Linked DNA regions of Homo sapiens. The protein of the gene in region 1 purifies or fractionates together with the protein of each later gene. This does not show direct contact. Each region holds a gene or a part of one and is shown in the gene's direction. Other genes may lie near its edges.

Region 1 (5,434 bases):
GCTGCACAGTGAGGACAGAGCTGGTGCCCAGGACCCTAAACCACTGCTCATGTAAGAGTGAGTGTGGGCACTCCCTTGGAGCACATGTGGGTATCGGCCCTCAGAATGGTGGGGGAGCCACTGGCAATTGGCAGGATGCCCCAAGTTTGTCAGCCGCTGAACTTACAAGGTGAGAGTGACCTCCATGGGCATTGCAGGCCTCTCTCAGGACACTCGCAACCTATTCCAGGCATCAGGATTCTAGTTCTCACAGCACCTTATGGCCTGCTCATCCCAAAACCCACAAAGGCATTTCCGCCCTCACTGACACCCCCTTCCTACCCCTACGTGCACCATCACTCTCCAGCTAAGAAACCACATTAGTTACGCTTCAGCTGCAGTTCCAGTGAACTCAACGCCATCAGAGAAAGGATACAGACTCCTTGGGTGATGTTTTTGGCACATCTGGCTGCTTTCCTGGAATTGTCACATTGAGTTGCTTTTTCTTTGCAAACAGGGTCTAGAAACAAACTCTTATTCTTTATCACCAGGCATGCTGTCTAAGCCTGTCCCCCATCCTGTGTGCCCCACAAAAGCCATTCTCATCCCCTGACCTCCATGCCCCTCAAGCTGAGTTACTTCTCATATGTGGTTTGGTCTGTATGCACTTCCCAGGAAGTATTCTGAACCTGCACCACTCAAAGTATGGTTCTGAGACCGGGAACACAACCATCCTCTGGAAGCTGGTGAGAAATGTAGTTTCCCTGGCCCTGCTCACAGCTACTGGGTCAGAATCTTTGGGTGGGGAAACTAGGAACTTGCTTTTTAACGTGACATCAGGGGATGCTGGTTGCTTCTGAAGTTTACAAGGAGCTACGGATAAACATCAAAGGCATATTTCACAGGGACAAAGCTTAAGTCTGGTCTGTGAAGAGTGCATTATTCAGTCTTTTGAGAGCCCCATTTGCGGTTGGAGTTGGAGGCTATGTGGGTCTTGGTCGAGAACTCAGAATCTCCACCCACAAACTGTGCCGCAGAGTGCTGTGCCGGCTGTGGCCACAGGAGGGAACCCGTGACAACCTAATGGGTGCACTTCAGCCATCCCTGAGGGCATCTTCGTCTTTCTGGTTCTCCACTGCTCCAATTGCAAGCGGCCACCCGTCCTGGAAACACCTTTGAGGAATAGGGGCAGCCATAACTAGCCAGGCCCCTAGTACCAGCACTTGGCAGCGCGTCCCTGGGCTGGGAAGCTGCATTTAGGGAGGTGCAGAGAACAGGGTTGGGGGCTCCTGCTCTTGATTTCCTCAACCTCTGCCCACGACCCCCAGGCTGGTGCCCCCCTCCCGAGACCCTCGGGGGAGCAGACACCTGCAGGACATCCCGCCAATCCTCCCGGGCTCCCCGCCTCTCTCTCAAGAGGCCCAGTGCTTTCTCGGGGCGCTGTACCTGCTCACCCATGATACTAGCATCCACTGTCATCCCTTTCCATCCTTTTGTCTCTGCCTTTCCACCTAACCTCCCCCTCCCAGCCCACCCCCACTGCTGAGTCCAGGGCTCACCTTCCACTCATACCTCTCACACTTGTGTTCCTGTGCCGGGCTCTGACTCTGGGGCGCCCAGTAGAGGTCTCCTTTAGCCTGCGGAGGTGCTGGGGCAGCTGGGGCTGGGCCTCATGTTCAGGGCACTATCTCTCCCATTGCTAGTCTTTTCCAACCCACCTGCCTGGGTGCTGTTCCTCTCCCCTAAACAGGAGATGATTTAAACGCCTTTGGAAGAAGGGAGGCCATGTGTGGGAGAGACAGGGTGTAACTGCAGAGGTGAGGCCTGGAGGGAGGAGTTTCTGCCCCAGCAGGTGAATTTAAAGGCCAGACCTGAGCCCTGGAAGGCTCCAGTGGACGCCAGGGATCTGAAGGGCAAAGGCAAGGGCTGCTGGAGCCTGCATCATGTCGAGTCCGCAGAGGAGGAAGGCTATGCCCTGGGCACTGTCACTGCTTCTCATGGGCTTCCAGCTCCTGGTGACTTATGCCTGGTGTTCTGAAGAGGAAATGGGTGGTAATAATAAAATAGTCCAGGATCCTATGTTCCTCGCCACAGTGGAGTTTGCCTTGAACACTTTCAACGTGCAGAGCAAGGAGGAGCATGCCTACAGGCTGTTGCGCGTCCTGAGTTCATGGAGGGAGGATAGCATGGACAGAAAGGTTGGTGACCACATCCTCTTCTGGCCTGTCCTTCTCCATCTGCCCCTAAGTGAGGGACCAAGATGTCTAGTCTAGGAGACTTGGTTCACCATCAGCAGTCCATAGTCAGGTAGTCCACAACCAATTACGGTAGTTTTAGTTTTGGAAAACATTGAACTTAAAATTTTTTTTAAATTAGGTAAATGTCTATTCACATGCAAAATATATTTTTCAATCTTCATGATTTTTAAGACATTGTATAACTGAAGAGTGACTTCAAAATAAGGACTTCTAAGGAGATGAAGCTGACAAGAAGAGAAAATAACCAAAGAGACTGATAAACATTTCCAGGTCATAAAATGAAAATGGAAAAGCAAGGACACACAGAGGGAGAGAGAGAGAGAGACAGAGAGAGACAGACAGACAGAGAGAGAGAGACAGAGAGAGAGAGAGACAGGCAGACAGAGAGAGAACAGTGAGAATTCGAGGGCAATAAAGAACACCATCAGCCCTGAGAGGCCACCGTGAAAGGTTAGTTCTCTGATCTCCACCTTCTCTGGGCTCCTTGCTCTGTCTGCACTTAATGAACTGAAGGCCAATTTACACTCTTCCTCAATGGACCTTTATCCTAAAATGCTTGCCTTTTTGATGAAATCATTAAATGTGGTCAGGAATGCACAGTTCATCTGGGCTTCAGGCATGAACAATTAAAATGCCCTCCTAGTGGAGAACTTCTGGTTTAGAGAGAGAAGGAGCATTGCTCTTCCTTTCTCAGCACCAAGAGCCTGAAAGAAAGGCAGAGGGACTCTAGTACCGCACAGAGCTTAAGCTCTGGAAAGACTCTGTGCAAGGCTCTGGCTGGTTCTCTGCCTCCTGGGGTGGATTCCTCACTGCCATCCTCAGGATTCCAATGCTGGTACAGAGGAATTTTCCTCCTTGCTCATTTGCTGCCTCCTCTCAGGAGAATTAAAAGCCTGATGCAACCCTCAGAGGGGCATCTGGTCCAGTAATGGTGGCTGCTAATATTCATGCTGGAACCTTGGAAGTCTCAGAGATTGAGATTGGCCAGGCCTCATGCTTCTGCTTTCCCAGTGCTTTGCTTGATTCTCCAAGACCTCAGTGTAAGCCTCCATTCTTAATACCGTTAGAATAAAATCTAAGCTCCTTACTATGGTCTATAAGTCCTAAATGACAGTAAGTCCTAAAAGCTTTCCACATGGCTTCCTGGATATGGCAATCCCAGCATCAGTTTGGGGGCTGGGAAGAATAGATGGGTGAGAGGGAGGCTATGGAGTGGAATTAAATAGAATGGAGTGGGAAGGAGGGCAAGGAGAACTTCAGCATGCACTTTGCAATAGGGCAGATGGTATTTCTTGAACCCATTTTCCCAGGGTGTGTGCCTGTGTGTAGTGGGAGCGCTGTGTGTCATTCTTCTTGCTGGAGGTCACTTGGAAGGTTTGACAACACACTGTAGATGAGGCTCCCTCTGTCCCAGGGCTGAAGTTACCCTGAAAACTCTTGGAGATCCAACACCCTCCCGGACATGTGGCTCTGTCCTCTGGGAATGCAGCTGCAAGATCAGATGCCTACTGAGAGTGAAGCTGGAGTCTCACCGTGGGAAATGGGGGTGGGTGGAGGTGGATAATGTGTTAGTGGGGTCTGACTCAGCCTGCATCCTCCCCAGACCCACCATGCCCACCTGCTTTTTGCTCTTAACTCCTCAGTCTAGAGAAGATCCCCTGGGTTTCACCTCCAGTGAGCTGATGCCAGGCCCATGGGCAAGCTCTCAAATGCAGTAAAGTGTTGGGGCCTCTCCTACTCAAATGGCATCTTCACTAGTAGCTACTTAGGGGCAGGAAGACGGTGCATCCACTTTAATCTTCTTTTGTCCAACAGTGGCGAGGTAAGATGGTGTTCTCCATGAATCTGCAACTGCGCCAAACCGTATGTAGGAAATTTGAAGATGACATTGACAACTGCCCTTTTCAAGAAAGCCTGGAGCTGAACAACGTAAGACAGGGCATCAGCTTTCCTCAGGTCCACAGCTGTGGATGCTGCATGGGGTGTGGTGTGGGCACAGGAGCAGCTGACAAAGCCATTCCGAGGGACAAAGGGAAGTGAGCCCACAGCAGGCTGTACCAGGCTGCCCTGCTTGTGCCTTAGTGGGAAGCCCAGTGAGGCATTAAGCCCAGGGGTTCACTTTCAGGCCCCTGGCCAATCTGAGTTTCCTGATTCTGCCCTCTGACACCATTGCAGCTGCCTGCACCTGGGCCACATGGCCTTCAGAACCTTCTCTCTGGTCTTCCTCCCCACTTCTTCCCTGCCTTCTAGAGAAAGAGCCTGGAGACAATGGTGACAATGTCTGTGGGTACTTTTCTCAGGGTTTCCCTACCCTGCCCTAGACCCAAAAGTGGTGGAGGCTGAGAAGAAGCCCCACTGCCCTCGCTCCTAGGCCCTGCTGAGCTGCAGCACCTGCTCTAGGGGACGAGCTCCAAGCAAAGCCTGGCTCTGGGAAAACTTCCCATTCTTAGTCAACCCCCTTATTGTAAGATTAACAAATAGGTAACTAATTGCCTAAGTCTGGGAACTGCTTCCACTGGGACAAAACATTCTCCTGCTGCTCTTGGATGCAGGGATCACACCAGGACAGCCTGGGGTTCCCCTGAGGGGCACGGGCTGGAGGAGGAGGCATGGCACAAGTGACCCTGGCTAAGGAGGGAGGGAGCCTCAAATCACGTTGTAGTTCAGGATTGGCCTCAGGCTCAGGCTAGACCTGAAGGCCAGAGCCACGTGGCACAATTGCTGGCCCCAGGAATGGGCAAGGTGGAGATGGAACCTGTGTTGAGGGCAGATGCCACAAGATTCCCGAACCTCCCCAAACCCCGCCCTACTGTCTCTTCCTGTTTGTTCCCTCGGACCTTCAGCTGCTTCTTCACTGTTGAAACCATGCCCTGGAAGACATATTTTGAACTCCTGAACAAGACCTGCTCAGAGGGGCTCTCCTGAGTGGAAGCCACTCACATGCCTGGCCACATGCTGCCCCCTCCCCCGTGGACACCAGCTGTTCCCAGGAGTTGACATATCAGTGGCTGAGCAGCTCCGTGCATATTTGTTCTCTTATTTTGCAAGTGTCTGAGGTTTTATGACTTGGCATTTTAGAAAATCCTCACTGTCCAGGTTCCTCAAGTAGAATAGGTCATTAAACATCAGCATTTGCAGAAGCTTCCTGTGCCATGTTCTGGAGGGAGGGGGCTGAGCAGTTGATGGAGTTCCTCTCA
Region 2 (4,709 bases), on another chromosome or scaffold:
GCAACTTTTACATTTGATTTAAATAACAGAACTATATTCTACCATCTCCATTGAATAATTATTTTAAGATACATTGTTGTGTGATATGGACCTATAGAGGTAACTTCTATTAGTAGAATTCTTCATAAAACTTGAAACTACTGTGCAAATATGAGGATTATAGCCTTTTTTTAAGGAAGCACTATTCAAACCACTTCTTAAGAACCGATATTCTTGCACTGATGGTTCCATCAGAATTGTTTTGAGCTTAACAGGTTGAAGACAAAAGTCAACAAATCTACTAAATAGGTTTGAGGTCTGATTTTTAAAAATCCTATTTAAATTCCAGATTTAGAGAGAAGAATATGGTGTTATATTGTTTCGCCTATAAAGGCAAAGAAATATTTAATGTCATGCTAATGTTCCAATATCATTTTTCACATTTCTGCAAGGTTAAGGCCATTTTATCAGCTTAGAACCTATATCCAACCTGCTGTAATTTGGCTGGGTTTTTGTGTTTCTGCCACAGACATTTAATCACTCCCAAATCTGTCAAAAAAATTTCTACAATTTCAGAGGTACTTGATATATTTTAGCAAAGATAAGCTACTGGAACTTTTAAAACCAGGTTGCTTTTTGCTGTTTTTTCCAGTGTTGAAAGATAAGATTTCTCTTGCTTTCTGTCTTCATAGACTACTACTGGAGAATGCCACTTTGAAAATTATCAAAGAGTGTGTGCATTAGAGCAGCAAAAGAGTGCAATGCAGACCTTGAAAGGCATAGTCCGGTTCTTGTCCAAGACTGATAAGAGGCTATTGGTAAGTTTCAGTTTTTCAGGTTGTAGTTCCTGCTTTCCAACAGAGAAGTGAGACACTTAAAATCAAGTCAATGGGTTTGAGCTGTCACTTCAATAATAAGAGAGAAGACAAGTTTAGGTAGTATTCTTGCGTGGAAGGAACAAGCATGGTTGGAAAGTTGAGATAGACCCAGGGTCTATCCCATATATAAACATGTTGGCCGGGTGTGATGGCTCACGCCTGTAATCCCAGCACTTTGGGAGGCCGAGGTGGGCAGATCACAAGGTCAGGAGTTCGAGACCAGCCTGGCCAACAGAGTGAAACCCCGTCTCTACTAAAAATACAAAAATTAGACAGGTGCCTGTAATCCCAGCTACTCAGGAGGCTGAGGCAGGAGAATTGCTTGAATCCGGGAGGTGGAGGTTGCAGTGAGCCGAGATCACGCCACTGCACTCCAGCCTGGGTGACAGAGCAAGACTCCATCTCAAAAAGAAAAAAAAAAATGTTATACAGTTTCATTTTTTTATCTAACAAATGCCCACTATTTGCCAACAAGACATTGTTCCAGACCCTTCAGGACACCAAGAGGTTGTCTTCACCTGGGCAGCCTTTGTGGCATGGGTTAATTTTCATTCTTTTCAGCTTAGTGAATGTATGAAAAGAAACTGGAGAAGCATTCATCACCTTGAAATGATCCACGTTTTACAACAAACAAAGAATACGTAACTTAGCAAGACTCTGATTAGGAACATTTTTTAAAAATTCTGTCCCAGAAGATTATGTTAATACAAATAATAAGAACATATGCTGCAGTTTAAATACTTTATTATAATTTAGAAAACAAACATTCATGTCTTGTTTAAAGGTAATTTAAATGCCACTAAGGAAAGCAGATGTTTAATTTCATATTTATGGAAAGATGATTTTCAAAATGCCATTAGAGTATATATTAAATTCTATATAAAATATTTTAAAAATATTTTCCAATGTTGAAAATTTTAATGTAGCACTTTTATATTCCCTTCAAGTACTGCATAAAAGCTGATCCACATTGTTTAAATTTCTTGTGTAATTTTGGGAAAATGGAAAGTGGAAAAGAAGCCAGTGTTCATATCCAACTGGAAGGCCGGCCATCCATTTTAGAAATGGTAAGTAAGTCTAAAACATTGACAACTTGGTGGCTAAGTTTACATAAAATCTATAAATTCAGTCATATAGGCAGGATAGTATGAAGGCATTCAACAAATTAAATTTTAAATAAAATTTTGGAGTAAAACTCTAAAACTGTATTTCTATCACTTCAACTATCTACATTGACTAAGTGAAATGGCTTTAGAAATTAACAGGTAATAAAGGCTAAAATAGGCCAGGCACAGTGGCTCATGCCTGTAATCCCAGCACTTTGGGAGGCCAAGGCAGGAGGATCACTTGAGGCCAGGAGTTCGAGACCAGTTGTATTCCTAGGTAGATGTCTGGTGTTATTTCTGAGGTCTCTGTTCTGTTCCATTGGCCTCTGTATCTGTTTTGGTTAGCCTTGTAGTACAGTTTGAAGTCGGGTAGCCTGATGCCTCCAGCTTTCTTTTTGCTTAGGATTGTCTTGACTATATGGGCTCTTTTATGGTTCCATAGGAAATTTAAAGTAGTTTTTTCTAATTCTGTGAAGAAAGTCAATGGTAGCTTGATGGGAGTAGCCTTGAATCTGTAAATTACTTTGGGCAGTATGGCCATTTTCACGATATTGATTCTTCCTATCCATGAGCATAGAATATTTTTTTCCATTTGTTTGTGTCCTCTTATTTCCTTGAGCAGTGGTTTGTAGTGCTCCTTGAAGAGGTCCTTCACATCCCTTGTAAGTTGGATTCCTAGGTATTTTATTCTGTTTGTAGTGAATGGGAATTCACTCATGATTTGGCTCTCTGCTTGTCTATTATTGTATACGAATGCTTGTGACTTTTGCACATTGATTTTTGTATCCTGAGACTTTGCTGAAGTTGCTTATAAGCTTAAGGAGTTTTGGGGCTGAGACCATGGAGTTTTCTAAATATACAATCATGTCACCTGCAAACAATTTGACTTCCTCTCTTCCTATTTGAATACCCTTTGTTGCTTTCTCTTGCCTGATTGCCCTGGCCAGAACTTCCAATACTGTGTTGAATAGGAGTGGTGAGAGAGGGCATCCTTGTCTTGTGACGGTTTTCAAAGGGAATGCTTCCAGTTTTTGCCCATTCAGTATGATATTGGCTATGGGTTTGTCATAAATAGCTCTTATTGAGATATGTTCCATCAACACCTAGTTTATTGAGAGTTTTTAGCATGAAGGGATGATGAATTTTATTGAAGCCCTTTTATTTTAAAAATATAGCTAAGAAGAAAAACTAAGGCTTTCATAAAATCAAATAAAATCAAAATTCAACAACAAAAACATATTTAAATTTTAAAAATAATGAAATATATCTTGGACTTTTTCCTACAAAGGAGCATGTATATTTATGAGGAGTAGTTTGAGATGAAACTAGTTTTATGTGGAGTTCTGTTTTTCAGCTTTCTCATCTGTTCAATATGGATAAATGAGATGATTTTTATAAGCACTTAGTTCATGGAACATAGGAAGCCAAAGGAAATGGCAGCTGTTATGTTCAAGTGGAATTCTTGAAATTGCCAAACAGTGCTTAAGAGGAAGATACACTAGACAGGCAAAGAAGAAATATCCATTTTAGTTTCAACTGTGCTAAAAGCAAAGTCATTGAACCATCAGCAAGTCATTTAACCTTTTGCAGTTTGCCTTATCTTTTTCTCTAGGTCTAGGTTTTCCATCAGTGGCCATAATTGGCATTTTGAACCAGATAATTTTGTTTTGGGGGGTTGTCCTGTGCATTGTAGGATATTTAGTATCATCCTCAGCCTCTATACGCTCACTGCTGGTAGTACCACCTCCCACGTTCTGACACTTGACAGTTTCTTTAGACATTCCTGACTGTCCCTTAGGTGATAAAACCCTCCCTGCTGAGAACCACTGCTCTAGATCTATAGGAAGCTTGTCATTTTTGGCTCTAAAATGTTAAATAACATTTACACAATAGTTTTAAAGGTCATATCCCTCTTTAAGAATCTGACTAAATATATTCTCATCTCCCTCAGCAAATGCACACATGAAAACATCTCCTAAAGATTCTTAGAATTTATAAAGCCCTTCTACAGATCCCCAAGCTTCATGGATTCTGCGTTATAAAATCCTTGCTTTAGATAGTAAAGTTCTGAGTTCATCCACTGATTTTATATTTGAATTCTATAATGTATTTAATTTAGAAAGAAATAAAAAGCCCAAATAAGATAGATTCAATATGCGGTGGTGGGGTGGAGAACAATGGTAAATGGTAACTTACCTCTTTCTGTAGTCTAATATTTAAATCAAGTTATTTGCAAGGTAGCTGTTTAATCAAAGGATTTCAATAAAATGATACTATATAAATTAATACCAAGACCACACTTTGGGAACCAAAGGAGGCACTGCAGTTAATTTTAAGTGGTGAAATAAATTGGGGAAGGTAAATTGTGAAAACCTCTAGCTAGAAGGTAAAGATCCTGATAAATTATGTCTTTATGAAATAAACCAGGCTATGGTGATCCTTCTTTTATTAAACAGGATGAGACTTCAGCACTCAAGTTTGAAATAAGAGCAACAGGTTTTCCAGAGCCAAATCCAAGAGTAATTGAACTAAACAAGGATGAGAATGTTGCGCATGTAAGATTACCCTCTTAACTGCTACATTAAAATTATAGGAAAACACATTTCAAGGGTGTCTATAATTACTTCCTTCTGAGTAACTGAGTTGGGAAAGTAGAGTGTGACCAGCTCATGGAGGGCCCCCAATACTTGGTTGAGAGTTGGCATTTTCCACAACTGGCAGGAGGGAACAATACAGCAGTTCTTTC

Evidence for each region. Proteins that work in one complex are often made in the same cells at the same time.
Region 2: the proteins of CST9 (region 1) and ITGA4 purify together in Homo sapiens (affinity purification with mass spectrometry; 3 studies listed by BioGRID and IntAct, with this or other methods). This does not show direct contact.

The regions. Positions count from the first base shown.
Region 1 is NC_000020.11:23,602,353-23,607,786, reverse strand, and holds CST9 (cystatin-9 precursor), read left to right. Parts: upstream 1-1,869; 5' UTR 1,870-1,922; coding exon 1,923-2,177; intron 2,178-4,052; coding exon 4,053-4,277; 3' UTR 4,278-5,377; downstream 5,378-5,434. UniProt on the Homo sapiens protein: May be involved in testis development. May play a role in hematopoietic differentiation or inflammation. Has immunomodulatory and antimicrobial functions against Francisella tularensis, a Gram-negative bacteria.
Region 2 is NC_000002.12:181,529,853-181,534,561, forward strand, and holds part of ITGA4 (integrin alpha-4 isoform 1 preproprotein), read left to right. Parts: intron 1-671; coding exon 672-797; intron 798-1,804; coding exon 1,805-1,924; intron 1,925-4,419; coding exon 4,420-4,518; intron 4,519-4,709. UniProt on the Homo sapiens protein: Integrins alpha-4/beta-1 (VLA-4) and alpha-4/beta-7 are receptors for fibronectin. They recognize one or more domains within the alternatively spliced CS-1 and CS-5 regions of fibronectin. They are also receptors for VCAM1.